Homo sapiens: one gene and its partners. The protein of the gene in region 4 interacts with the protein of the main gene of each other region in a biochemical or structural test. Each region holds a gene or a part of one and is shown on either strand. Other genes may lie near its edges. The genes, in order: SLITRK1, GPC4, OMG and PTPRS.

Evidence for each region.
Region 1: the proteins of PTPRS (region 4) and SLITRK1 form a complex in vitro, tested with the Homo sapiens proteins (one study listed by BioGRID).
Region 2: the proteins of PTPRS (region 4) and GPC4 form a complex in vitro, tested with the Homo sapiens proteins (one study listed by BioGRID).
Region 3: the proteins of PTPRS (region 4) and OMG form a complex in vitro, tested with the Homo sapiens proteins (one study listed by BioGRID).

The regions. Positions count from the first base shown.
Region 1 is NC_000013.11:83,879,449-83,886,539, reverse strand, and holds the start of SLITRK1 (SLIT and NTRK-like protein 1 precursor), read left to right. Parts: upstream 1-4,065; 5' UTR 4,066-4,536; exon of another isoform or gene 4,537-4,979; 5' UTR 4,980-5,032; coding exon 5,033-7,091. UniProt on the Homo sapiens protein: It is involved in synaptogenesis and promotes excitatory synapse differentiation. Enhances neuronal dendrite outgrowth.
Region 2 is NC_000023.11:133,405,478-133,412,503, forward strand, and holds part of GPC4 (glypican-4 precursor), read right to left. Parts: intron 1-7,026. UniProt on the Homo sapiens protein: Cell surface proteoglycan that bears heparan sulfate. May be involved in the development of kidney tubules and of the central nervous system.
Region 3 is NC_000017.11:31,294,219-31,302,037, reverse strand, and holds OMG (oligodendrocyte-myelin glycoprotein precursor), read left to right. Parts: upstream 1-4,798; 5' UTR 4,799-4,882; intron 4,883-5,700; 5' UTR 5,701-5,706; coding exon 5,707-7,029; 3' UTR 7,030-7,391; downstream 7,392-7,819. UniProt on the Homo sapiens protein: Cell adhesion molecule contributing to the interactive process required for myelination in the central nervous system.
Region 4 is NC_000019.10:5,204,989-5,211,819, forward strand, and holds the end of PTPRS (receptor-type tyrosine-protein phosphatase S isoform 1 precursor), read right to left. Parts: intron 6,781-6,831; coding exon 6,602-6,780; intron 5,818-6,601; coding exon 5,691-5,817; intron 5,607-5,690; coding exon 5,481-5,606; intron 3,404-5,480; coding exon 3,249-3,403; intron 3,070-3,248; coding exon 2,934-3,069; intron 1,855-2,933; coding exon 1,786-1,854; 3' UTR 520-1,785; downstream 1-519. UniProt on the Homo sapiens protein: Cell surface receptor that binds to glycosaminoglycans, including chondroitin sulfate proteoglycans and heparan sulfate proteoglycan.

The DNA of each region.
Region 1 (7,091 bases), on a different chromosome or scaffold from region 4:
CTATGGCCCAAAGTAATAAAAAATATAAAATGATATAAACATAGGACAGTGATACTTTAAGCCACAAAGTAAAACTGTACATTCATTTTGATGTGTTTTACTGAGATTGCTATTTCTTTGATGAGAAATAAAAGTTGCTAAGTTTTAAAAAGCAATATACTATAAAAGAAATACTATAAAAATATTGTATTAACTTCACCTTCAGAAATTGTGTAATATCTTCATTATCGTAGCACCCAATTCCTAGAATATTACAATCTACAAAAATAAGATATGAAAATATGTGTGAGAATCTTACATTCTAAGCATATTTGTTTATAGGTACAATTCATTTATAACCCTGTCTTGTAGTTTACAATTATTATCTCAAGATGAAAAAAATCACAATGACCCCTTTATCTTATGACAGTAGTAGATTAAACTTAGGACTAATGAATTCTCTCCTACAGTGGTTATACTGTTTATTACTGGTTTCAAATCATAGTAAATATTAAATGTGGTAACAATTATCCTGAGTTCAAATGTGAAAAGTCTAAGGAAGGCAAGAGACACTAGGTCTGTTGTAAAATCATTTTTAAAGTGTTTTGGATTCAGAAAAAAGCAACGTGAAGGGACCAAAAAAATCATAAACTATAATATATACTAGTATGTGTTAAATATACTAGTAAGGAAACTGATCCACAGAAAGCTTAACCAGGGTCATAAATGGCATTGTATATTAAGAACAAAGAGAGACTTAGTAGAATAAAAGCTTAGTTCAGGAGTCTGTAGCTTTGTTACCATAACAAAGTCAAATGATATTTTTTAATCTTGGTAAATTAGTCAATGTTACTTAGCCTCAGTTTCCACATCCATAAAATAGGATCAAATTCACTATTAACCAACCAGTTATCTTTAGTTCTCTGCAATAAAAAGTATTGTGGATGAGGGAAGAGTAAAGATAGACTTCCTATATGTAATTTTGTATTTGTTAAATCAAAGTATTACTTTTACAGTTAAAAATTAGAACAGTAATTTTTAAAGTTATTGTGAAGATTAAATAAACTGGATAAAAAAAGTTAGTTATAAATTCTACTTTTTCATTTTAAAAATGTAGTGCACATATGGAAATATCTAGAAACTTGATGCCATTTGGGAAAAAATGGATAATTAACTGGCAAATTTCTTCTTAGTCTGAAAAATTCTTTATTGAACAATCAACATACACCTTTTCTTGTTTGAGAGGAGAACTTGTTTGATGAAGAATAGAAATGTGTGAACATTTAATGACACAATTGAAATCTTTCTGGTCACAGCCAGGAAATTAAACTATAGCCCTGAGCAAATATTATCAATCATCATCATCATCTGGAATATCCTTTATCTCCAGCTACTGAGATTATCTGTTGAGAGGCAAGGCAACTGAAGGAGTTCACTTGAGCTCAAATAGACAGCGTGGAACCCTTTTAAGAAAAATTCATGCCTAAGAAATATTCCCCTAAGGTATTAGAAATGTTTAGATCACATATAAATCCCTTATATTTTTATTCTCCACCAATAAATTTATTGTTTAACTTGAATAGTTAGGCTTTGAAGTTGTAGGTGTGGTTTTCTAGACCGTTTTATGTCTCTAAAATATATTTATTATGAAAATATTATGATAGCTATTATAGAGGGTCCATTTCAATAGACTTACATGTGTACCTCTATATTTTGCTTGCAAGTTTGTATTGGAGATCTTCATATAGGCGGTATAATCTTAATCTTTTCTTCTCAGGTTTAGTTGCTCATCTGAGAACTACCACACTTTTTTCTTAGAGTGCAGAGATAAGAAATTATTTGAAGAGGATATAATTTAAAAAATTTTGTAAGATACCTAAATAGGAGAATCCTAACTGTAAATTTTCTATTGTGATTGGTGTGTTAAGAGGAAAGAAGAAATAAGGGATGAGAGAAAGATACAGAATTTAAAGGGTGAAGAGGAGAATGAAATCTGAATACAAACTGTAGGTTATCTAAATTCATTTAAATCAACTTAAATATGTTCTTGGAGTCTCTTCACATAAAGATAATATTCTGTAAGTTGAAAAAAAATGTAACCTTTTAAGGTTAAAAATGTGGGTTTTAGATGATTGTCCTTTCTAAACAGCCAGCATTTTTCTGTTTTCCTTGAGTCTTGCCTAACCCTATTAATCACAGACACCATAAGGCTGATTTCCTTTCTCAGAGTGGTTTCTTGGGCCAAGATATTTTAGACCTGAGTCCTATTTAAGAAGAAACAGAAAAATGATTTCCTTCAGTTGAACTCCTCCACATCTGCAGTTCTCAACTGCATAGCATTTCTTTAGCATAATGGTTTCAAATTGATTAAGGTCTTTTTTTTTCACTCTCTACATGTGGTAATGGGTCAAATTAAATGAGAACAGAGTTATTTCAGAAGTGTATCAGGATGTCTAAAAAAGATCTCTCTAGTGTACACACGTGCACACACACAAACACACACATGCATGCACATACACACACACACTGAAATGTCTTCATCCCCACCTCCCTTCACTGAATTTCACCAGAGGAATACAACAAAAATATTTTGTCATATGAAAACATTGTATATAGATATGAAATTTTCTCCACCCACCTAGAAATTAGATTCTGACCCAGAAAAAAAAATCTTGTAAACATCTTTAAGACCTTCCCTAGCCTTGGGAATTTTCCCAACCCCAGTCCTTTCCCCCAAATTTTTACTCCCCATCTTTCTCAAAATACACACTTCCTTGAACATTTGCTCTTTTGCACAAAATATTAGCAAGCTCGTTGCAGCTGTCCAACTTGCAAAAGACCTAATTAAAAAGGCAAGTGGTGTAAACATATCCTCTCTGCATAGAGTGAAGAAAGGGCCAAACAGTAACTCTATTTAAAAGACCTAAAAATTTCAAATCCTAAAATGATCTATAAATATTTTAGGACGTATTGATGTGAAAAGGTGTCGACTCTGAAAGGAAAAGTCAGCAAAAGAGGCTTCACGGAAGCAGCATGTTCACGTTTTCTTCCATCCCAGAAGGTGATATTACTGGATTTTTATAAGCTCAGAGTTTGGAATCTGTTGTTTCCTTAACTGGAAAAAGCCTGAGCTTCGTGTTTCCCCAGCATCAGTGACCCAACAAGCATCTGCGCGAAGAGGAGCTGCCGGCTACCTGCAGAGAGCGTTCTCGCTGAGCTTTAGAGTCCAGAGATTTCTATCTCCTCCTCTCAAAATGCAACTGGTTATTTACTTGTAAACATTTAAATTAGTTCAAACTGATGTGAAAACTTTGTCAGTGGGGTGTGTGTGTGTGTGTGCGTGCGTGTAGTGTGCGCGCGCCTGCCTGCCAGTGGGTTTTTAACAGCACTCACAAATCATCTTGGGATTTTTCCCTGCCCCCTCTCCCTTCTTTTCCGGTTCTCAGTTAAAGCTTTCGGGACTGGAATCAAGGACTTCAGCATGCATTGTGTTTCACCCTCCAGAGTTAAATAACATTCAAGAAATATCAAAGAACCTAACTCTCAATGACCAAATTGACTAAATTTCTGCAAGTTTTAAAAAGTATATGCCTAATTTATATACCTTGCAAAAAAATTCATACTCAATTATGATATTATGTAACATATATGTTCCGAAAGCCACTTTGAACATACCAAAAGAAATGTTTCAAAGACATCAAATAGCGTAAAACACTGTGCCGCAGAGAAGGAAGAAATGCATTTAAAGAACCGATGAAAATGGCGTGCAGTATAATTACCTCAAATTGCTGTTCGCTTGACACCCTGACACTAATTTTATTCAAGCCATTGGGAAATAAATGTTTTAAAAGCACTCCTTTCCGAATGGTGGAGCTGGTGGGGGCTGTGAACTCGTTAAGGAAAGGAAAGGGTAAAGTTTCCAGCACGCAAAAATAATCAAATAATCCATTTAAAATAAGCATCTATGTAGATCGTCAGCCTTTTATGCCCACATTTTTAACGCTTGCCCTGTACGTGGATTGATTTTTTTTTCTTTCAGCATTCCCTAGCCAGATGGATTTTTGCTACTGCAGATCAGCAGAGGGTGTCAGATCTTTCAGAGTGCACCAGGCTGGAACGAGCAGAGCTTCTTAGCAACTCTCTTCTCCGCCCCCCTCCCCTCATTCTCGCGCTCTCTTCCTCCCTCAGACAACTCGCCCCCCGCCCTCCGCCCCCCTCCACGTAATTCCGAAAGAGCAGAAGAAAGAGAAGGAGAACAGGAAAAGAAGAGCTAGTAAGCGAGAGCGAGAGCACAGAAAAGAAAAAAAAAAGCCTTAAGAGGACCGAAGGGGAGGAAAGGAAAAGGATGGACAACCACAAAACGCAGCGATTGCGGAAATTTTCCAGCGCCATTGGCTGGGCAGCGTGAGTCCTTCGGTCGGGCGTGATTTCAGCACCGGGGGAACTGGACAGCACCTCGGGGGGACTTCTGGGCAACCCGCAACCACAGCAAGAACTCCACCAGCAGCCTCAACAACAGAAGCCGCGGAAAACCCTGCTTTGTATCAGAGAGGCAAGGTCAGTCCGACGCACAGCCATGCACAGGCAGTGCGCCTGTACTACGCTGCAAACCCTCTGCTTGTTTCTCTAACATGCACTTGCTTCTAATTACTAGCATTGTTTCATTTCTGATCAGTGAAGATCAGTAGATGAGATTCTGTAAGGGTGTACTTTTAATTTATATGTATATATTTAACTTCTTTTTCTGTTATTTTTAAAGTGTTGTGGGGGAGTGGGGTTTTTTTCCTACTTTTTTTTTTTTTTTTTTTTCTTTGCTTGCCTTGCACTACGTGCCTGGATAGTTTGTGGATATAATTATTGACTGGCGTCTGGGCTATTGCAGTGCGGGGGGGTTAGGGAGGAAGGAATCCACCCCCACCCCCCCAAACCCTTTTCTTCTCCTTTCCTGGCTTCGGACATTGGAGCACTAAATGAACTTGAATTGTGTCTGTGGCGAGCAGGATGGTCGCTGTTACTTTGTGATGAGATCGGGGATGAATTGCTCGCTTTAAAAATGCTGCTTTGGATTCTGTTGCTGGAGACGTCTCTTTGTTTTGCCGCTGGAAACGTTACAGGGGACGTTTGCAAAGAGAAGATCTGTTCCTGCAATGAGATAGAAGGGGACCTACACGTAGACTGTGAAAAAAAGGGCTTCACAAGTCTGCAGCGTTTCACTGCCCCGACTTCCCAGTTTTACCATTTATTTCTGCATGGCAATTCCCTCACTCGACTTTTCCCTAATGAGTTCGCTAACTTTTATAATGCGGTTAGTTTGCACATGGAAAACAATGGCTTGCATGAAATCGTTCCGGGGGCTTTTCTGGGGCTGCAGCTGGTGAAAAGGCTGCACATCAACAACAACAAGATCAAGTCTTTTCGAAAGCAGACTTTTCTGGGGCTGGACGATCTGGAATATCTCCAGGCTGATTTTAATTTATTACGAGATATAGACCCGGGGGCCTTCCAGGACTTGAACAAGCTGGAGGTGCTCATTTTAAATGACAATCTCATCAGCACCCTACCTGCCAACGTGTTCCAGTATGTGCCCATCACCCACCTCGACCTCCGGGGTAACAGGCTGAAAACGCTGCCCTATGAGGAGGTCTTGGAGCAAATCCCTGGTATTGCGGAGATCCTGCTAGAGGATAACCCTTGGGACTGCACCTGTGATCTGCTCTCCCTGAAAGAATGGCTGGAAAACATTCCCAAGAATGCCCTGATCGGCCGAGTGGTCTGCGAAGCCCCCACCAGACTGCAGGGTAAAGACCTCAATGAAACCACCGAACAGGACTTGTGTCCTTTGAAAAACCGAGTGGATTCTAGTCTCCCGGCGCCCCCTGCCCAAGAAGAGACCTTTGCTCCTGGACCCCTGCCAACTCCTTTCAAGACAAATGGGCAAGAGGATCATGCCACACCAGGGTCTGCTCCAAACGGAGGTACAAAGATCCCAGGCAACTGGCAGATCAAAATCAGACCCACAGCAGCGATAGCGACGGGTAGCTCCAGGAACAAACCCTTAGCTAACAGTTTACCCTGCCCTGGGGGCTGCAGCTGCGACCACATCCCAGGGTCGGGTTTAAAGATGAACTGCAACAACAGGAACGTGAGCAGCTTGGCTGATTTGAAGCCCAAGCTCTCTAACGTGCAGGAGCTTTTCCTACGAGATAACAAGATCCACAGCATCCGAAAATCGCACTTTGTGGATTACAAGAACCTCATTCTGTTGGATCTGGGCAACAATAACATCGCTACTGTAGAGAACAACACTTTCAAGAACCTTTTGGACCTCAGGTGGCTATACATGGATAGCAATTACCTGGACACGCTGTCCCGGGAGAAATTCGCGGGGCTGCAAAACCTAGAGTACCTGAACGTGGAGTACAACGCTATCCAGCTCATCCTCCCGGGCACTTTCAATGCCATGCCCAAACTGAGGATCCTCATTCTCAACAACAACCTGCTGAGGTCCCTGCCTGTGGACGTGTTCGCTGGGGTCTCGCTCTCTAAACTCAGCCTGCACAACAATTACTTCATGTACCTCCCGGTGGCAGGGGTGCTGGACCAGTTAACCTCCATCATCCAGATAGACCTCCACGGAAACCCCTGGGAGTGCTCCTGCACAATTGTGCCTTTCAAGCAGTGGGCAGAACGCTTGGGTTCCGAAGTGCTGATGAGCGACCTCAAGTGTGAGACGCCGGTGAACTTCTTTAGAAAGGATTTCATGCTCCTCTCCAATGACGAGATCTGCCCTCAGCTGTACGCTAGGATCTCGCCCACGTTAACTTCGCACAGTAAAAACAGCACTGGGTTGGCGGAGACCGGGACGCACTCCAACTCCTACCTAGACACCAGCAGGGTGTCCATCTCGGTGTTGGTCCCGGGACTGCTGCTGGTGTTTGTCACCTCCGCCTTCACCGTGGTGGGCATGCTCGTGTTTATCCTGAGGAACCGAAAGCGGTCCAAGAGACGAGATGCCAACTCCTCCGCGTCCGAGATTAATTCCCTACAGACAGTCTGTGACTCTTCCTACTGGCACAATGGGCCTTACAACGCAGATGGGGCCCACAGAGTGT
Region 2 (7,026 bases), on a different chromosome or scaffold from region 4:
TGAAATATACTAGTGCCCTCGATGATTATGGTTACAAAGGTGGCTTTGAGCATTCGCCCATTCTAGGAGATCTCAAACTGCCAAGATCAGCAAGTTCTGGCTCTCCCATTCAGCTTCTGGTCACCCTCCAACTGTCCTCTCTCACTTCTTCCAGATGTCAAGTCTTACCTGCCTCTAACACGATCCCTTCCTGTGATTCCCATCGGCCCCCAACCAATACCATTTGCTACTTCTAATCTGCCATAGACTGGGAAACTGGATAACCAAAGCATTTTATCTTCTCACGTATAAACCCTATCTACCTAATTTGAATGCAAGTTCCTCAAAAGCTTGATTCCTGCTTGACACCTCTTGGAATCCCCTGCACCCAGCATACTGCTCTGGATACAGGAGCCATTCAATGATTGCTGATAATAAATTTCTGAAGGCCTTTTCTCCACATAGAATGCATGGGCTTTATGACAGCTGTTTCCATCATTTGGCTTTTCTGCTTACTTCCACATTCCCAGCTGTGTTCTGGATGGTTGCACCAGCTAGAAGCCTAGGGATTTACTGTACTTCTATTTCTTGATAAGATACTTGAAGAGAATAAACACATGGCAAAGAGGACATTAAAGTAAGGGATAAAGAGATTTATTTTAATTTTACCAATAAAGAAAAAGGGAAGAAATATCACCTAGCATGTTGACACTTAATCAATAAATGACAGCAAGGCTGGATTCTGTTCTAATTCTTTCCAAAGTATTCTCATTGTGCTTGTCTTATGTCTCTACCTGCAGCAAAGCAGCACTCAGTTGTGGTTCACACTTATATCTTGATTGAAAACATTTTCCTCCATGTTTGACACACCTTTCTCTTAAATCCAAGTTAGCCAAAATTAAAACAACCATGCACTGATTCTAAACTAAAGGCTTTATCTCAAACAACATTTTGTGATGAATCTCATTGGAAAATTTAGAATAATAGAATCTCAGAGATGGAAGGGACCTAGGCCAGGCATGCTGGCTCACGCCTGTAATCCCAGCACTTTGGGAGGCCGAGGCGGGCGGATCACGAGGTCAGGAGTTCGAGACCAGCCTGGCCAACATGGTGAAACCCTGTCTCTACTAAAAATATAAAAAATTAGCCAGGAGTGGTGGTGTGCTCCTGTAATTCCAGCTACTCAGGAGGCTGAAGCAGGAGAATCACTTGAACCCAGGAGGCGGAGGTTGCAGTGAGTGGAGATCATGCCATTGCACCCAGCCTTGGCAACAGAGCAAGACTTCGTCTCAAAAAAAAAAAAAAAAAAAAAAGAAAATTAAAAAAAACTACCATGGGCCAGGCACAGTGGCTCACGCCTGTAATACCAATACTTTGGGAGGCCAAGGTGGGTGGATCACTTGAGGCCAGGAGTTCAAGACCAGCCTGGCCAACATGGTGAATCCCCATCTCTACTAAACATACAAAAAACCAGCCGGGTGTGGCAGCACACACCTGTAGTCCCAGCTACTCGGGAAGCTGAGGCAGAAGGATCGCTTGAACCCAGGAAGTGGAGGCTGTAGTAAGTTGAGATCACGCCATTGCACGCCAGCCTGGGTGACAAGAGCAAGACTCCATCTCAAAAAAAAAAAATACACACACACACACACACATTCATCCATCCATCCATCCATCCATCATGGCCTAGTCCTTCCTGAAAAAAGTATTATTTCATTGGTATGGGGTGGTACCCAGGCATTAGTATATTTTAAAAGCTCCTCAGGTGCCAGGTGGTTCAATTTCACCCCATTTTTCAAAGAGGGAAGAACCTCACCAAAGGTATTTGACAACAAATTTGCCAGAGTTAGGCTAGAACTACTCATCCTAACAAGCCATGTCTTCTCCATGTAAACTACTCCATCTACAACAGTGGAGTCTCTTCCCTCCCTCACTCTCCCTCTCTGTCCAACTATCCCCACCTATCTCAAAGTAAATATATTTTCTGAATATTCTTTGCCTTAGAATCCCATTGCATAATTTTTAAAAACCTAAATGATGTATGTCTGCTTCCCTGTATCCTCATGCTTTTTTTTCCACACAAAGAATCCCGAGAGATCAATCAGGCATGGTTTACCCTTAAAGAAGCCATATTGCTTCTCCCTAGATAGGTTGGACTCAACCCACCCTTTTCACCATTATTATCACACATGCCATCTTTCAAATCCCTTGCAAGATTCAACTTCAATTCTCTGTCAGCCCACTTAATTTCTAGTTTGTACCTGGGCCTTGTGAAACCTAGTGGACTTCCCTCTTCTGGCTTAAACTCTTTGTATTTTGTGAAAGATGCCTTTTTCCCTGAAGCAGCCTCTTTTACTCTGCCAGTTAGTCATGCCGGGTTCTTTTTTTCTTCCCCCGAGCAGTTGGTCTTTTTGATGTCTGGCACACATTTATCTGGGCTTCCAATAAGATGTTTTTACATAGTTTCCAGGCTTCCTGGAGGTTATTGACTTTTTTAACTCTCCCATTCAGTTTTTTCCCCTAATTTCTAACATTTGTTAGAGTTTCTTTCTCAAAAGTTGAATACCTGGCTGATGCAGCTCTTTGATTTTTCTCTCCCACCAGATTGCTGAATTAAATGCATCAGAACTTAAACATAATATTTCAAATTACCTCCAGGATGGAATCGCTTCATGCATTTTCTGCACTTTCATGTTCTCTATAGTAAGCAACAGATGTTTAACCAAGTAGATTTGAAAATGCTAGTTTTTACCTGTTTGTATTTTAGTATGTCTGTTTATTTATATAAAATATTCTGATACCCTTCAAAGCTTGTGTTCTTCTTGGTAAAGACAATAAACTTGAGTTTTTTTATGTTAAAAGGTAACTGATGCACACTGAACAGTTGCATGTGGTAAATTTGCTCTAAATTGCCTAATCACAACAGTCTCAACTGTTCATTCTTTAAAGAAGTGTATCTCAAGGCATTAAGAAAAACAATTCTGAATCTTTCTGAAAAATTCCTGGCCAGTGCAGTAGCTCATGCCTGTAATCCCAGCACTTTGGGAGGCCGAGGTGGATCACCTGAGGTCAGGAGTTCAAGACCAGCCTGACTAACATGGAAAAACTCCATCTCTACTAAAAATACAAAATTAGCCGGGCATGGTGGTGCATGCCTGTAATCCCAGCTACTCTGGAGGCTGAGGCAGGAGAATGGCTTGAACCAGAGGCGGAGGTTGCGGAGAGCTGAGATCGTGCCATTGCACTCCAGCCTGGGCAACAAGAGCGAAACTCTGTTTCAAAAAATAAAAAAAAATCCTATAAGCATTCAGTTATTAATGAAGTGGTAAAGACAAGTACTCCCCCAAAAGAATAAAAACGTTCTCCAAGCTATACCAACATATGCATATTTACTTTAAATTTATTTCACTTCAAAGTGTTTAGATACAGGCCTGGAATGGTGGTTCATGCCTGTAATTCCAGCACTTTGGGAGGCTGGATCATTTGAGGTCAGGAGTTCTAGACCAGCCTGGCCAACATGGTGAAACCACGTCTCTACTAAAAATACAAAAATTAGCCGGGTATGGTGGCACACGCCTATAATCCCAGCTACTCGGGAGGCTGAGGCAAGAGAATCCTTTGAACCCAGGAGGTGGAGATTGCAGTGAGCCGAGATCACGCGACTGCAATCCAGCCTGGGCAACAGAGCGAAACTTCATCTTGGAAAAAAAAAAAAAAAATTAGCCAGGCGGTAGTGGCTCATGCCTATAATCCCAGCTACTCTGGAGGCTGAGGCAGGAGAATTGCTTGAGCCTGGGAGGCAGAGGTTGCGATGAGGCAAGATCACGCCACTGCACTCCAGTCTGGGCAACAGTGAGACCCTGCCTTAAAAAAAAAAAAAAAAAAAAAAAAAAAAAAAAAAAGTGTTTAGATCCAAAAGATTCCTAGGAGATCAACAGACCATGGAATGACAATCTATCATCAAGGCAGTATAATCTCATTGTAGCACTAGTGTCTGACAGAGAACACAATAGAATTGGCTATGTTATTCTCCCACTTGTTTAACAAATATTGCACTGACCTACCACACTTGGTACTGCTACCCACAGACAAGACGAGGAGTTGTCATCTTTGCCCTCAAGTTGCTTCCAGTTGAGAAGACAAACACGTACCTGCACACACAGTTAACTATAATACAAGGCAGTTATGTACAAAGACCATGGACTGGTTCCAACAGGGAATTAGGAAGAAGTGGGCACATAACCCTGGAGAGTTCAGAAGTGACTCAATGAAAGAAGTATCATTTGAGATGCTTGGAGCCACTGAAGCTCAAAGCACAGGAATAACTCTAATCAAAGCAGTGATGTAAGGAAATTAAGCTGGCGATGTTCAGGATAGAACAGGGATTTAGGAGGGGGGGACAGACAAGAGGCAGGTAGACCAGTTAAGAACTATTTAAAAAGAGTCTGCTGACAGACCTCCCTGTCTTTATCTCTTGCCTCGCCAACCCTTAACCCAAAGAGCCACTAGTTATCTTCCTAAAACAGCTTGACTGACGACATTCCCCTCCCTCAGAAACCCTCATTGGCTCAATTGTATTGTCCAGGAAATACAATTTATATTCCTTCTACCATTAACACTAGATTGTCTATGTCTGGGTTTGACATTTTGTCTACAAAAGATGTGACTGGATCCTCTCCACTATAACACGAAAATTGTGCCGTTTTGATGATGGTCTGTTACTAGTTAGCTGAGGGTCCTCCCATACTTTATATCTCAACAACCTCTATGGGAATAGAGAAGGTACTTTCTTGTCTTACTATCTGTACAACATAGCATGAACTATACTCTAGAACAGATAAGACCTGGGTTCAAATCCCACCTCTGTTATTCATTAGCTATAAGATTGTGAACATATTTCATAATCCCTTTGAATTTGTTTTCTTGTCTATAAAATGGAGATGATAATTCTGATGTCATATGGTTGTTGTGGGTTTTAAATGAGACAATCATGTAAGTTCCTTGGTATAGGGCCAGGCCCAGAGAAAGCATTCAATAGCTACGAACTCTTATCATGAGGCCAAAATACATTTTTAAAAACATAAATAAGAAAAAAACCTCAGTGCTAAAACAGTTAATGTCATTGGGGAGCCAGAGAGACTCACTTCCAACTGCCTCAGATTAACGCCAATGTTGTTTCCCTTGTACACATAACAAAAAACTTCCTTTTTCATTCCTCAGTCTAGTCTCCAGTTAATCCTGAAATTGCATGCAACCCAACGTGAATCAAATAAAAAAGGAAAACAGTAATTATGCTGAATCAGACATTTTATATTTATATGTTCTAACCAGAGACTGAGCTGCATAAGCCAGAACTTTAACTAAATTCTTTTTTGAACATGTCCAGAAGATACCTCCTGTAAACTACTTGGGACAATTTCTACAGTGATAGGCCCTGTGGCTCAATTCGACCCTCCCCAAGTGAAACACAGAGCCAAATTGATGATTCCAACAAAACAGGAGATCACAGATTCATTGCAAAATCCAACACATTACTTACGGTGGGGAAGGCGGAATACAAATCTTAAAGACACATGCTGTGTGTCATATATAATCAACTCACTATTAGAAAGTATTGCTACCTCTCCAACACACATACACACGTACTTTTTTTCCACGTAGTCATAACAGCTTATAGGAGTCCTGGAATCCTTTGTGCATGTACATATGTATGTGTGTGTGAGCACATGATCATAGGTGCATTGCTCATGAACACAGAAGGGAACAAGAAATAAAAACTCCAAAACTGCAACTAGGGCACAAAGTTCTGAGTATCATTCAATGTCATTGTGAAGAGGACCTTTGGCAAGTTCATGAATGCTTCTAACCCACTGCCTCACTCTTAAAAACAATTTCAACATAGATGAGTAATAAAATGCCCATTGTTGCATACCCTTTACCTTTGTCTTTATGGAGGGAGGCATAATGAAAATGGTTAGATTTTTAAACTTATCTTCATTAGTATTTTCATTTTTACTAGTGAACTAGCTTTACCCAGTTAATATTCTATAGTATTAGAGTCCTAAATCCCTTCTCTCTTTGAAATGCCTGGGCACTCCCTTCTCGTCATCTGTATCGCTTGTATGGCACTTATCACCACTGTGTTGTATTCTAATTTTGTGTGTGCGTGGCTTATCTCCTTACTAATAGGAAAGGTCCTGGTGGCAGAAGCCCCTCCTGCCTTTCTTGCTGTCTCCACAATGCTGAGCAGAGGATACTGCACATAGTGGGCGCTCCAAAAGTACATGGCCATTGAAAGCTGAACAAAAACATAATCTTTGTGTTAAAGATCCCTTTTGATCATGGCACCTGGACTCAGCATTATTTGAAAAGTACAGGGGTCAAGCAGACAGGCAATGCAGGACCTCAGTTGGAAGCCCTGTCAGCATGATGTACTCCCTGACACCCTTGAGAGCACATCAGATGATCCTAACTATGATCTATAAAGACTGAGACTCCTCCAGAACATGGAGTATTCTTAAAGCCTGTTCAAACCTCTAGAAGGCAAGTGCAAGGCCATCTGGAATAAAACATTAAACTTGGGCTGAGCCTGGGGCTCAATGAGCTAGGTACCCAGACTTTGTGATACTTCACCTGGAAAATGATCCTGGGTGTTTTGCACTGAAAAAAGCACATTCCCCATCCCAGGCAAAGTGCCTGGCAATTAATCCATCCAGACCTAGGCTGAATACAAGTCACTATATTGACTATCCCCCTTAAAAAATGACCAAAATTATCTGAGTGTAGCTCAGAGAAGACAAGGCTAATGTATGCATCTGGAGAGGCCAGGGTGATGGTAAAGATTACGCCTGTTTCTATACTGGCCGTCTAAAGGTATTTACTTGGGTCTGTCTGTGTTGTGACAGTGTCCTAGACTCAAATGAATGCCTCTAACACTCCACATTTTTGAGCCATTCAGTCATGCATTTTTGTTATTGTTGAAAGTGGTGCGAAATTGCACTGCATGAGCTAAAGTCCTTGGTGGTCTTCCAAGGATTCCAGCTAAAAAGG
Region 3 (7,819 bases), on a different chromosome or scaffold from region 4:
ATCCTTGCTTAATCAGCAGGAAGAGATACAAACTAATAAATGCAGGACAGAAGAAAATGCTGGAACAAAGAAAAATCTTTTAGAGAAAAGATTAAAGAACTAAGATCCAGAAGAGAAAGTTTATTTCATGAATACTGCAAAAGAATAAGGCACAGGGGAATAAAAGGTAGATTAAAGTTCACACCACATACTAGTGGTGCTCTTAACCAAAATAGCATTAACCAGAGTCAGACACAACCCTGAAGACCATTTGGTTCAACTCCTTTTGTTTGTTAACTACTGAGAAAACAGGACCAGAGAAAGTAAGTGATGTGCTTAGAAGTGGTATTAAAAGCTGAGTTTGCTCCCTGACTATTGGTTCAACACTCTTTTCACTAATATAGGACCAAAGAGCACCTACATCATGCACTGAAACATACATATATCACATAAGTCTTCTATTTGGTGTCAGTGGTGAGGGACACAAATGAATTAGATGAGGGTGATCTTTAACTGTTGTTCTTACTGAATTCTGATCAAAAAGTAAAGTAGCACCTTTGGGAACCTATAACTAAAACACTGTGGTACCGGTATATGACTAAACAAACAGATCAATGGAACAGAAGAAAAAGTCCAGAAATAAATATCAAATCAGTGGAAACAAGCATTGGAACAATTGGATAGACATCTGGAAAAAAGAAAAAATTTGATCCATACTTCACACTATATTGGAACACCAAGGACCAGAGTTCTAAATATAAACCATGAAATTATACAAGTAATAGAAGAAAATATGAGTAAATTCCTTTATAATCTGGAAGCGGGAAAAAACCTTCCTAGCTGAGACTCAAAATCCAGAGGCAATAAAAAGGGAAATCAAATTATATGAAACTTTTAAATATCACACACATGCAAGTGCGCATTACACACAGACACACACACCTCACCATAATAAAGCCAAAAGACAAATGGCAAACTGGAAAAAAAAATTAAAACTTAAATCAAGACAAAGTGCTAATACCTCTAAAATTTAAAATGCTCCTAATATGGGGCAGGAAGGGGAAGACCCAAAACACAACTTTTAATAGTGCAAAACATTAAAAAGACAGTTACAGGAGAAAACATTTAAATGGTCTTTAAACATATGTAAAGACATATACTCCCCCTCATAATTACAGAGATGCATTTAAAATTAGATGGAGATACTTGCCTATCAGATGGACAATAAATCCCAAAGTTCAACAACAAAGTATACAGTGAGGCTGTATAGAACTCGACACCATGATACACTGTTGGTGGGACTGCAAAATGGTATAATCAATGGAGAGGAATTTAGTAATGTCTGGAAAAATTCCAAATGCATTTACCCTTTTACCCAGCAATCCTACTTCTAGGAATCTTTTTCAAAGATTTACTGGCAAACATATAAAATTATTTAGGTACAAGGGTATTCACTGTGGCATTATTCGTAACAGCAAAAGTCTGAAAAACCCAGATGTCCACCAATAGGGGACTGGTTGAATAAGCCATGGTACATTCCCAAATGGAGTACTATGGATCAAACAGTGAATCATACAGATACCTATATACTGATATGGAGTGATACTCAAGATACAGTAAGAAAAGAAGAACAAGTTATCTAACAGTATGTATATATGTCACCTTTTATATTAGAAGGGGGGATAAGAACATACCATACATATGCTTACATTTTTTTTAGGTTTTCAAAAAGAAATGTTAATGATACAACGAAAAACTAATAAAAACAGTTACTAATAGCAGAAGGAAGGAAATAGGATGGAAAAGACAGAGAAGCAAGATTTATCTGAATATACATTGTTATATATATAATTTTGACTTGTGATCCTGAAAAGCTGAAAACTGAAACAAAGTTTATATCAAGTTGGTGATATAAAAATACACAGAAAAGAATTATTTCACATTGCATTAGAACACAGAATTTACTATACACTTTTAGTAAAATAAAGCAAGCAGAGCTACAAACAAATTTTAAACTTTATTCGGTAGTCTATAATCTAATTGTAGCAATCAATACTGGTATTATTTTGAAATTATTGTGAGATGATGCAAATGAGCAATTATGTCAATGATATGAGGAATCACTTATAGAAAATATGGGGGACAGAAGAACAAATTAAATCTTCCCAAAGAGTCAAAGAGAAAACTCCAAGATGAGAGACATTTTAGGAAATAATTGACTGAGTTTTGGCAACAAGCCAGTGGCATAAAGAAAAAAAGGAGTAGGGAGGTGGGCAAAGAAACTGATTCATTTGGATTTTGACTTGGTAATTTCTATGTTGTTATTTCTTTCATGCTTTTAAAGTACTTTATTGAGTACTCTCAGTTGTATTCAGCAGGAAAATCAGTCTAAATAGCCAACCATATTACCAAAAATAAACAATATCTGACTCTCAAGCATAGCAAATGTTACCTATAATAATGGAAAACTGAAACCACTGATTAGCGTGGGATAGCTATTCCTTGGCAGATGCTTTGTGATACCTTTCACAATGTTGGGGTAATATATCCTAGGACACAAAAGAATACGTAAATTAATTTACTGCTTAATCTAGAATGTAAAAGTTGCCTAACTATCATTACTGACCTAGACAGCCTAATAGAAAATGTAATGAGTCTGAATAATATTTAAAATAAGTTGTAACACATACTTATGCCTCTAAAAAATATTTTTTTTGAGTAACAGTAATACAGTATTATTTTATTTCATGAGAATTTCTTTTATTTATTTATTTATTTTTATTATACTTTAAGTTTTAGGGTACATGTGCACAACGTGCAGGTTAGTTACATATGTATACATGTGCCATGCTGGTGTGCTGCACCCAGTGTAAGAGATTGTTAGAATTCAAATATATTGAAATGATCTCCCTTTTTCTTTTTGAGAATTTTACAATAATCTTTGAATAATATGAAGCAATTTGGTATGTCCCAAACTTGAAATGAGAAACATTGCCACTACTATTGCACTGGAATTTTCTATTATATACAACAGAAACTAAACTTGATACAGCCTAAACCCAAATTCATTTGAATCCATTAATGAAGTAACATGTCTTTTCTTTCAAACAAAAGTACTGTTAAGTGTAATGAAAATGCATAACTCTACTTCTACACTGACTTAATGAGGTTTCCTAAAATTAAGAGATTTAAGTGGTCGGTAAATTGACCCTCAGTCACATCTTTAGAAGTGCAGCAGTGTATATATGAGCTTAAATAGAACTCTAAATGTCAATGCATTCCCTATTTCCACAATATTGCTGAATGTAGTATTTTTAACACATTATTTTAAGCACTATGATTGATGGCTGGTTTCCTAAATCCACAGTAAGAATCCAATTGAGAGTTCAACTGAACCCTCAAAGTAAAGTGGCAATAAAGCACCCAATCAACAATAAACTTCTATGTTGCGGACTCTTAAAATGCAGATACTTTTCGAGGAACATTAGTTTTATACAAAAGGTGGCTCCTAGAGTATAGTTTCTCTTGTAAGAAAATAAACTTCAAATTTTAATACAACAAATTCTATTTGTGGTATAATCTAAATAATGCTAATATAATTTAGAGAAAAACAAACGATTTAGTAACAAGGCATAAAGAGACTTTCCTTACACATAACATGCTAAATATTACTCGTTTTTAAATGGTGCCACTTGGTAACGAAAATACCGTAACTTTATTTGCTTTCTTTAAACTTGCCATTCTGGAAATCAGATTTGTGTTTTAACAGATTTACACAAGCAGTCCACTGAAGAGTGGAGCAAAATTTATCATAAATCTGATCTCACTTTATAAAACTCATGATGAAAAATTTTCCTTTTATATCATTTCATGTAATTTTAAAACTATAAACTACTTTCCCAGAAAGATGAAATGTGCAACACTCTGAAATCACCTAAATTGATACTGCTATTCTTAAAACATAAAATCAAATAAATGGTCATTCATACAGCACCAAAAATGTCTTTGGAAAAAACAATACTCATATCCACTTACCACCCAAGGTTGCATAAAGAAAAAAAACTTTAACTCCAAATATATAAAATAAAACATGTTTATTTTACATAGGAACTGATAATCTGAAGTATAAGATGCTAATTTCCAAATGTATCCTGGCTTGTGTGTAGCCTTGGTCAAATGATCATTGTATCAGAAAGATAAAGAAAAAATAATCGTATTTCAGTACTTCTATACATCCTAAAAGGGAAGACGGAACACTTAAGTGGTTGATAAATTTGAAAAGCTGATTAAACATAATAATCACCATGTTGGGGGAAGACATAAAAGTCATAAAACAGATTTTTTATAATATTAAAAAAGTGACATGAAAATTATACAATTTTAGAAAGGAATATAAAAAGGCAGGAGTTAAAAAATAGTGGGACTAATATCATAGAAAACTATCCATGAGGAAGGTCAAATTTATTTTCAACATGTAAAAAGGATAAAGAGTAGAGGTATTTTAAAAATTCACAGATTCTTAATGAGGCAAATGTTAAAATATGGAACCCAATCTCAGACAAATACATAGAAAGGAGTAAGGGCCAACTCTCATGCATAAGGTATCCCATCCTATAGCAAATCAGATATATAGGTACGCTTGATGCCACAAATTTTTTAAAAAATTGTCCATTTTGTTGCGTGTGCACCTCTTGCCATAAATTTGAGTCAGCACCAGCGACAGCTCTGCAGTCCTCCTATGTGGTACTGATCAGGTGGTTGCAGAGCTTCAGCTCACAGCAACACAATGCAGCTGAGCAGGCAAGCACAGCCCACAGCCAGAAACAGTTCCGACTCTACAGAACAAGACGACCTTTAAGTTTCCCAGAGAAAATGAGATGCTGATGTTGAAGACGACACCACGGTAAGATGTTATTTAAATCAGTAAAAGGCTGACTTTGGAATCTTTTTCCTTTTTCTTTTAAGAAAAAGTCAACGTTAGGATTAAATATATATTCAATAGCAAGTGCATGCACCAGAAATTTGCTGCAGTGTCAGTTGAGGGATATTTTTTATACATTCAGTCACTCTGTAAATATACATATTGTTTTCCTTTAAAATGGGCACTGAAATATACAGAAAAAAATCACTTTATAAAATGTGAGGTTTATAGGTACTGTGTTGGTCTGGATTTTTCAAGTGCTTTTTACAAAGATATATTTATCCTAAAAACATACAGATAAAATTTCGAAGAACTGCTTTAATATCTAAATAAAATCTACCCTATATACACACATTGAATTACATTACTGCAGAGATTAAAAAAAAAAGACACGACAGCCATTTTTTCTCATCTGAGTAAGAAAGCATATCATCAAAAATAGTAATAGCCTACAACTGCAACTATTTATTTGCAAAGAATGCTATTTTATCATATTAAGGCTCTAGAAAGATAAATAAGAAAGAATATGGTTAGAAAAGGGGGGAGGGAGAGAGAAAATAAAGGAGAAAATGCAGGAGAGAGTAGGGAGAGAGTCTCTCTCTACCACATAGCCCAATTGAAGGATTAAGCATTTGGACTATAAATGAAGGGGAGCTTTGTTAGTTTAATCACTGGAACAATTATAAAAGGACTCGACAACAACGAGGTTTATTGAAAATTTTGCCTAATGCTAACTGACCCATGCAGATGCCTAAACTGTATTTGCATATTAAAAGAAGGGTGTATCTGTTTGTTTCTAGGCTTTGATGGAATATCAGATATTGAAAATGTCTCTCTGCCTGTTCATCCTTCTGTTTCTCACACCTGGTATTTTATGCATTTGTCCTCTCCAATGTATATGCACAGAGAGGCACAGGCATGTGGACTGTTCAGGCAGAAACTTGTCTACATTACCATCTGGACTGCAAGAGAATATTATACATTTAAACCTGTCTTATAACCACTTTACTGATCTGCATAACCAGTTAACCCAATATACCAATCTGAGGACCCTGGACATTTCAAACAACAGGCTTGAAAGCCTGCCTGCTCACTTACCTCGGTCTCTGTGGAACATGTCTGCTGCTAACAACAACATTAAACTTCTTGACAAATCTGATACTGCTTATCAGTGGAATCTTAAATATCTGGATGTTTCTAAGAACATGCTGGAAAAGGTTGTCCTCATTAAAAATACACTAAGAAGTCTCGAGGTTCTCAACCTCAGTAGTAACAAACTTTGGACAGTTCCAACCAACATGCCCTCCAAACTACATATCGTGGACCTGTCTAATAATTCTTTGACACAAATTCTTCCAGGTACATTAATAAACCTGACAAATCTCACACATCTTTACCTGCACAACAATAAGTTCACATTCATTCCAGACCAATCTTTTGACCAACTCTTTCAGTTGCAAGAGATAACCCTTTACAATAACAGGTGGTCATGTGACCACAAACAAAACATTACTTACTTACTGAAGTGGATGATGGAAACAAAAGCCCATGTGATAGGGACTCCATGTTCTACCCAAATATCATCTTTAAAGGAACATAACATGTATCCCACACCTTCTGGATTTACCTCAAGCTTATTCACTGTAAGTGGGATGCAGACAGTGGACACCATTAACTCTCTGAGTGTGGTAACTCAACCCAAAGTGACCAAAATACCCAAACAATATCGAACAAAGGAAACAACGTTTGGTGCCACTCTAAGCAAAGACACCACCTTTACTAGCACTGATAAGGCTTTTGTGCCCTATCCAGAAGATACATCCACAGAGACTATCAATTCACATGAAGCAGCAGCTGCAACTCTAACTATTCATCTCCAAGATGGAATGGTCACAAACACAAGCCTCACTAGCTCAACAAAATCATCCCCAACACCCATGACCCTAAGTATCACTAGTGGCATGCCAAATAATTTCTCTGAAATGCCTCAACAAAGCACAACCCTTAACTTATGGAGGGAAGAGACAACCACAAATGTAAAGACTCCATTACCTTCTGTGGCAAATGCTTGGAAAGTAAATGCTTCATTTCTCTTATTGCTCAATGTTGTGGTCATGCTGGCTGTCTGAGGGTCTGCATTTTCTGAAACTAATGAAAGCACTCCTCCCTGATGTACAGTTGGGAAAATATGTCCATATCTAACCAGTGATTCGAGCTATATTTAAGTATTCAAGAAAGCCAGTCTTAACATTTCTAACTCTGATGTAAATGAAGTAACTTGTCTTAAATAAAAGAAATGCACAATGTCTTGGTACTTGCTGCTATTTTACTGTCTTAATTAAGTAAACTAATGAGTTTCTTTTATAAAAAAAATGAAATGTTTTAAGGCTTCAATTTATTGCACAAAATATAAAGCATCTAAACTTTAATATGTATTTTATGTATGTTTACACTGTCAAACATCTGGAAAATAAAAGGTCTATGCTCATAACTGTGTCATTTGGCTTTCCAGTCATACCAACTTTAGCAGAATCAAAATGACCTCACCATTTTTGTTCTAGGGTACCTTGGTAAAATCTTTAAGGTAAATAAAATGGCGGTAGTATCCAAGGATATTTTACTGAAGTAAAATCGTAGCTGCCATCCCATGAATGGTTATGCTACAACATTATTTTACAGACAAGCCATAATTGTTTTAAATCTAAATGATGTCCTGCTTCTGAGGAACTCTTGGCTACTTGACAGATTATATAATGGACAAAAGCTCTTCAAAAAGCTAGAAGACACTAGGCTTTGCATTTTAATAAGAAAAGTTTAACGGTTGTGTTTTTTGCATGTAAGAAAAGTGTTAAAAACATAATGAAAAAATTTAAAAACATGTAAAGAAGCAGTTTTAGTGCAGATTTAACACACCATTAA
Region 4 (6,831 bases):
ATGAGAACACGAGGCAGCCCCTACAGGACCAGGGCTTGGGTTCAAATCTTGGCCTGGCCACTTCATCGGTGTTTTGAGTTTTTTTTTTTTTTTTTTTTTTGAGACAGTCTTACTCTGTCACCCAGGTTGGAGTGCAATGGCATGATCTCAGCTCACTGCAACCTCTAACTCCTGGGTTCAAGCGATTCTCCTGCCTCAGCCTCCTGAGTAACTGGGATTACAGGCGCCCGCCACTGCGCCTGGCTAATTTTTGTATTTTTAGTAGAGTTGAGTTTCACCATGTTGGCCAGGCTGGGTTTCACCATGTTGGCCAGGCTGGTCTCAAACTCCTGACCTTGTGATCCACCCGCCTCAGCGGTGTGTGGTCTTGGACAAGCACCACCACCTCTCTGGGCCAACTCCTCCTCTGACTGTTCACACAAGGAAACGAGATCAGCTCTCCAGGACCCCACCGACCTCCACCCCAGGGATGAAACTGGACAGGCAGGGGCGCAACAAAGACTCCACAATGGGCCGGGGTCAGACGATCTTCCTTTAATACAAAGTCGATATATCTACATACACGGGGGTGGGAAAACCACCCGGCTGCTTCCGCTGGAATAAACAGTGTTGAAAGTAACCGCAGACCTGCCCTTGTACAAAGAGGAACAACTCGCTTGCTCAGGGTAGGCGGGTAGAGGGGGGCCTGTCCTTCTGGTTTTGCTCCCAAACTGCCCCACAGTCCCAGGGGGAAAGGGTCCCTGATGTGGGGCAGCACAGCCATACAGCCACTGTCCCCGAAGAAGTAGGATCCTCTCTGTCTCCTTGGGGGCGGGAGACGGGGAGACAGCTCAGGCTCTCAGAGGAGGACCACTGTCATCTCTCTCCTCTTACAGCAGCGTCCCCCTCAACCGCACCCAACGCCACTGGGTCCGAGCTCCCCCATGACCTTACCCTCAGAACTGTATTTGATATGTCTGAAAATTTAATTTATAAAAATGAAACAAAAAGGGGGAAAAAAAAAGCCAAGAAAGAAAAAAGGACATCCCATTCTTCTGTGAGCAAAGCACACTTTCTGATGGTAGGAAAAATTAAAAAAAAAAAAAAAAAAAAAAAAGCCAAGGTACAGCCATGGGCCTGGCGTGCGCGTTTGCGAACGTAACTATCACACAAGGACGCTTTCTACAGTGAAAAAATAGACTGTCTTTGAACAGAATATGAATAAGCCAAAGTTAGTTCTCTTTGAAAGTCATTGACTGGCGAGTCTTTTGTTTGTTTCTCTTAAAAAAAAAAATGGAAAAAAAAATACACTATTTAAAAAAAATGAAATGTCACGGGATACAGTTACACTGAGAGTTTTAAAAGAAAGCTGGATTCTGGTCCCAGCCCAGTGTCCCCAGGCTGCAGAGCGGGGAGGAGCCCCCCGGGTCCCCCTACCACCGCTGGGGGAGGACGAGGGGTCCGTCTATGGTCTGTGCCCCACCCTCCTCTGGTTCTGGGGAGCACTCCTATTTGCTCACCATCCCCCCACCCCCCACCCCGGAATCTGGTTTTGGAATTGGAAGGAAAGGAGGAATGTGCCAAGTATTTGAAGGCGGCGGCCGGTGCCAGGGAGGTCGCTGGGGCGGCCGGGGCCGGTGGGGGGGCTCGAGGGGCTGCGTCGTCCTCGGAAATGGTGCAGAAACACAGCTGCTGCCGCTGCCACCTCCTGCCCTGCCCACTGGGGGTCCAGGCCTCAGGAGGTCCGCCCGGGAGGGGCAGAGGCATCCGGGGCCAGTGGTGTCGGGCCTGGGGGGAACCATGGCTTTAGGTTGCATAGTGGTCAAAGCTTCCGAGGTACTCCAGTGCCGCCTGGTAACAGAACTGGTACTCATCCTGGGGGAGCAGAGGTGACCTGTTAGTACCTCCGCTGCTCTAACGCCTCCCAGGGCTCCCTATCGCCCTCAGGAGCAGGCCAAGCTCCTCAGCCTTGTGCGTGTCTCTTGCAGAAGGTCTCTTTGGCCCCCACGGCCCTCCCACAATGAAGTGAGCTATGCCACACCTCTCTGCCTAACACAGCCAGGCTCTTCACCCGGAACGCCCTCTCCTCCCGTCTGCCTGGAGGCCCTATTCATCTTTTCTTTTTTATTTATTTTGAGACGGAGTCTCGCTGTGTTGCCCAGGCTGGAGTGCAGTGGCGCCATCTTGGCTCCCTGCAACCTCTGTCTCCTGGGTTCAAGTGATTCTCCTGCCTGAGCCTCCCAAGTAGCTGGGATGACAGGCGTGTACCACCATGCCCAGCTGATTTTTGTATTTTTAGTAGAGACAGGGTTTCGCCATGTTGGCCAGGCTGGTCTCAAACTCCTGACCTCGGGTGATCTGCCTGCCTTGGCCTCCCAAAGTGCTGGGATTACAGGCATAAGCCACCACACCCAGCCTCATTTCTATTTTTTTTGTAGAGATGGGGTCTTTCTGTGTTGCCCAGGATGGGCTCAAGCGATCCTCCCACCTCAGCCTCCCAAAGTGCTGGGATTACAGGTGTGAGCTGCCACGCCGGGTCCCCTCTACTCATCTTTTAAGACATGGCTGCTGTTCAGAACCCCCTCCACTGGAACATTCCCCTTGAAGCTAGGAGTCTGGGCCTCAGTTTCCCCATCTGTACATTGGTTGGACTTGGGGGTCAGTGGTTCTTGGCAGGGTCCAGGCTGAGCCACAGACTTGCTGTGACTTGGGGACTGCAATGAGCCCATCTCTGTCCACTCCAAGGGCCACTTCTCGCCTTTGACCTTCAGCTGACTGTTGTGTTAAAAGGGTTACTGGTCCCCTTCCAGTGCGGGAGGGGTCTGTGGACCGTCTACCCACAGTGACCCAGAGAGTCCCAGGTGGCTGTACCCATCTCACAGAGGAGGAAACTGGAGCTTAGGGGCAGTCGGGGCGTGAGGCCAGGCTGCCTCCCCTCCCTGTCCCATCTTTACCTCTGTCTGCACCATGGCCGGCCGCTGGGTTCGTAGCATCTTCACCGTCTGAAAGATGTCCACCACGCCTTCATACCGCATCCGCTCCAGCACGATGCTAAGCGTGATGAAGACGCCCGTCCTGCCCACGCCGGCACTGGTGGCAGTAAAGTGAGCACAGCCATTCAGGGGCAGGTGCTGGGGAGCCCTGATCTGACCACCCGATTCCCCGAGGACTCTAACAGCCCAGATGGGACAGCCTAAGCTTGGGGCTGTCCCCACCAGGCCTCAGTTTCCCCAGCAGGGCCAAAAGCTGGGACACTCGAGGGAGCTCACCTGCAGTGGACAGAGATGGGGCCGTCCTGGCCAAACTGCTCCTTAGTCTTATGCACTTGGCCAATGAAGTCGATGAAGCCCTCCCCCGACTTTGGCACACCCTGTTCCGGCCAGTCTGTGAACTGGAACTGCCGGACAGTCCGGGACTGGCCATCCTAGAGTGCAGAGAGCCCAATCTTGTTATCAGGTCAGCAGCGGCCATGGGGGTTTTTCTCCATCCTCCCTATCTTCACCCCCATTTTTTGTTTGTTTGTTTGTTTTTGAGATGGAGTTTCACTCTTGTCGCCCAGGTTGGAGTGCAATGGCGTGATCTCGGCTCACTGCAACCTCCACCTCCAGTGATTCAAGTAATTCTCCTGCCTCAGCCTCCCGATTAGCTGGGATTACAGGCATGAGCCACCAGGCCCGGCCCTCACCCCCATTTTGTACACTCTCTGCCATTCATTTACCCTGACAACTTACCGTCCTTCACAATCCAATGGTACTGCTTTCCATAAGAGATGCTCCAACCTCATCCTCACCACTTCTTGCCACCCAGCTGTTCCTCTCCCCACATTTCCTGTATGACATCCAGCACCTCCATCCTCCATCCTTTGCCATCCCATAGTGCAACCAGCTCTGCCCTTCCCAGCTCCTATTCACCATGATCCTCTGTCATCTTCCACTCTGTGCCATTTCGGGGCCCTACAGCACAACTCAACTCCATCACTGTCCATAGCTCATCAATGATGACTCATCTTCTACAACCCAATGGTGCCATCATCTTTCATCGTCCACCATCCAACACCATCATCTTCCACCATCCAATAACAGTGCCACTGCTACCACCCACTGCTGGTAACTCACTACCTTCTGCCGTCCCGAGTTCCACCCAACACCATCATCTTCCATCATCCACCACCATCCCCTCTTGGTAACTCATCCTTAACCATTCAGTGATGGCATCTTCCACTGACTGTCTTCATTCCCCACTACTCAACCATTCCTCTTTGCAGTCTCCTTTCCTACCACCCAGTGGTGCCATCCAACCACATCATTCTCTGCCATCTTCCATCCTTCACAACTCAATGGTGCCATTTTCCACCATCCATCACTAACAATTCATCACTCTCCACCATCCAAGGGTACCATCTTCCACTGACATTCTCCATTCCCCATCATCTGCCTTGTTCTAATCCCATCCTCCACCATCAAAATGGTGCCATCCAAAATTGTTATCCTCTGCCACCATTTGCCATCCAATGTACCATCTTTCCCTGATGTTTTACATTTTCTAAAATCTCCTTTCCCAACCCCATCTTCCTCAATCTTGTACCACCCATTGGTTTATACCATTGACTATTGTTTACTGTCCTTTCTTAGTCCTAGTATTTCCCATTGATTTTCTCCACCCCCTGCTGGCCAAACATTTGCCCTTCTCCAATTCTGTCTTCCTCCATCCATCACTGATAAAGCATCACCCTTCACTGACCCAAACTACCACATTCCACTGACATTCTCCATCCTGTTATGCGAATGTTCTTCTCTCCAATTCCAGATTCCACCCCTCCAAGGGCACCATCTTGCACTGCTCACAGCACAATGCCCGGTGATTGCTGTTCATTCAGCAGCCTTCACCATCCTTTGGCATCATCTTGGCCAACATTCCCCATCCTCTATCATCCCCTCACTGCGTTCTCTACCATCGTCGATCTTCCACCACTAACTTTGATCCTTTGTCACCCAACAGGGCCACCTTCCACTATGAGTCTTCATCTGTTGCCACCTAATACCTGGCCTTTCTCCCTCCACCTGACACTGCAGTCCTTCATTGAGCCAACACCATCCATACTCATCTCTCCTCACCCAACGGTGCCAGTCCCCACCATCTGACTCTCCTTGTCCACCGTCTACCACCCCTCACCCTCAATCCCTCAAGTCCCTTTCAGCCCTTTAACATCATCCTCCACAGGTGGCTGCTTCCAGAGGAAAGCCCCATTCACTTCCTTGAATATCATCCCCTGGGGCCATGTTCCCTAGTGAGTGGAGACACTGCAGGGTCAGCACAGAGATAAGACCCTCTCTTCCACCTATGTGGCAGTAGAAGCAAGTGGCCAACTGGTCAGCTGACACTTCTCCTGATTCCCAATGCTTATGCCTAACCCTTGGCCTTTGTATCCATCACCAACCAGGGCAGCCCTTTCCAGATCACTAAGGCTCCAGCCCCTCCCGCCAGTCTGTCTCTTCACTCACCCGGGCATCTGTGACCTTGAACTCTCGCAGGATATACTGAGGCATGTTGTATTCTGCCATCGGATCTACCACAAAGTACTGGTAGCGGGCAGAGCGCTCGGCCGGCCAGTACTGGTGACACTTCTCCTGTGGAGGAGATGGCGGCCGTGGTCAGCGCTGTCTGAGCCACAGTCTGGCCCTCGCCCTTCCCTGCTGTGGCCCCTAGCTCACCCGGCCCATCTCCCGCAGCTTGGTCAGCATCACCACGATCGTCGAATTGTTCTCCCACAGCATGCGCCAGAAGTCTTCCGTGGTCTCCGCCAGCGGCCCCTGTGTCGCGATGTAGGCCTTCTGCTGCCTGCAGGCGTTGGGGGTATGAGCCCAGGGCCGGCAGGGAGACCCGGCGTGGTACTCACCTGATGCTGCCCGGGAGGGTCAGGACCAAGCCAGTGACAGCTACACCTACCACCCCACTGCCTGCCAGGAATGGCTGCTGGGTGCACCACTTCCCCTCCTGGTGATCCCATTTTGCATGTGGGGAAACCACCAGTCTCATGACAAATTCAAATCCCTTGACAAAGCTGCGGGACTATCCACTAACCTCTCCTGATTTCTTCCCTCCATCTCCTTCAAGGGCCACTGCCCTACTTTCAGTTGCTTGCGTGGGCCAAGCTCTCAGCCCCGGGCCTTTGCACATGTGGCACCCTCTGCCAGGAACACCCTCCCCTCCTTTGCCAGGATTTCTCAATCTCAGTGCTATTGACATTTGGCGCTGGATTGTTCTCTGAGACAAGCTGTTCTGTGTACTGTAGGATGCTGAGCAGCATGCCTGGTCCCCACCCAGGCAGTACCAGTAGTACTCATGAAAATAAGAAATATCCTCAGGGTGTCAGAATTACCCCAATTGAGAACCACTGATAGAACAGATGGAATCACATTATGGACAGCAGCCATCAGTTAAACACACACCCAAAGATTCACGGACAGCAGCCATCAGTTAAATATACATCTAAAGATGTGTATTTAAACAGCTCAGGGCTACCAGTATCTCCCCAGCTCTGTCTCCCACAAGACTGGAGGCCTCTTGAGAGTAGAGATGGGCTCCTTCTGGGGCCCTGAGGTGGGAAAGGCATGGCACCTACCTGTAGCCATCAATGAAGCTGGCGTTGATGTAGTCAGAGCCCTCCACACCCCGGATGGGTTGCAGACAGACCCGTGTGCTCTCATAGGGCATGATGTTCACCAGGCGGTTCTTGAACTTGTTACAAGGCAGATTGGCACTGATGAAGCGTGACGTGTGGGCCTTGGAGTTAGCCAGCCGCTGTGGGGAGGAGGAAGCCAGAGGCCACCATCAGGATGAGGAAGGCTATGC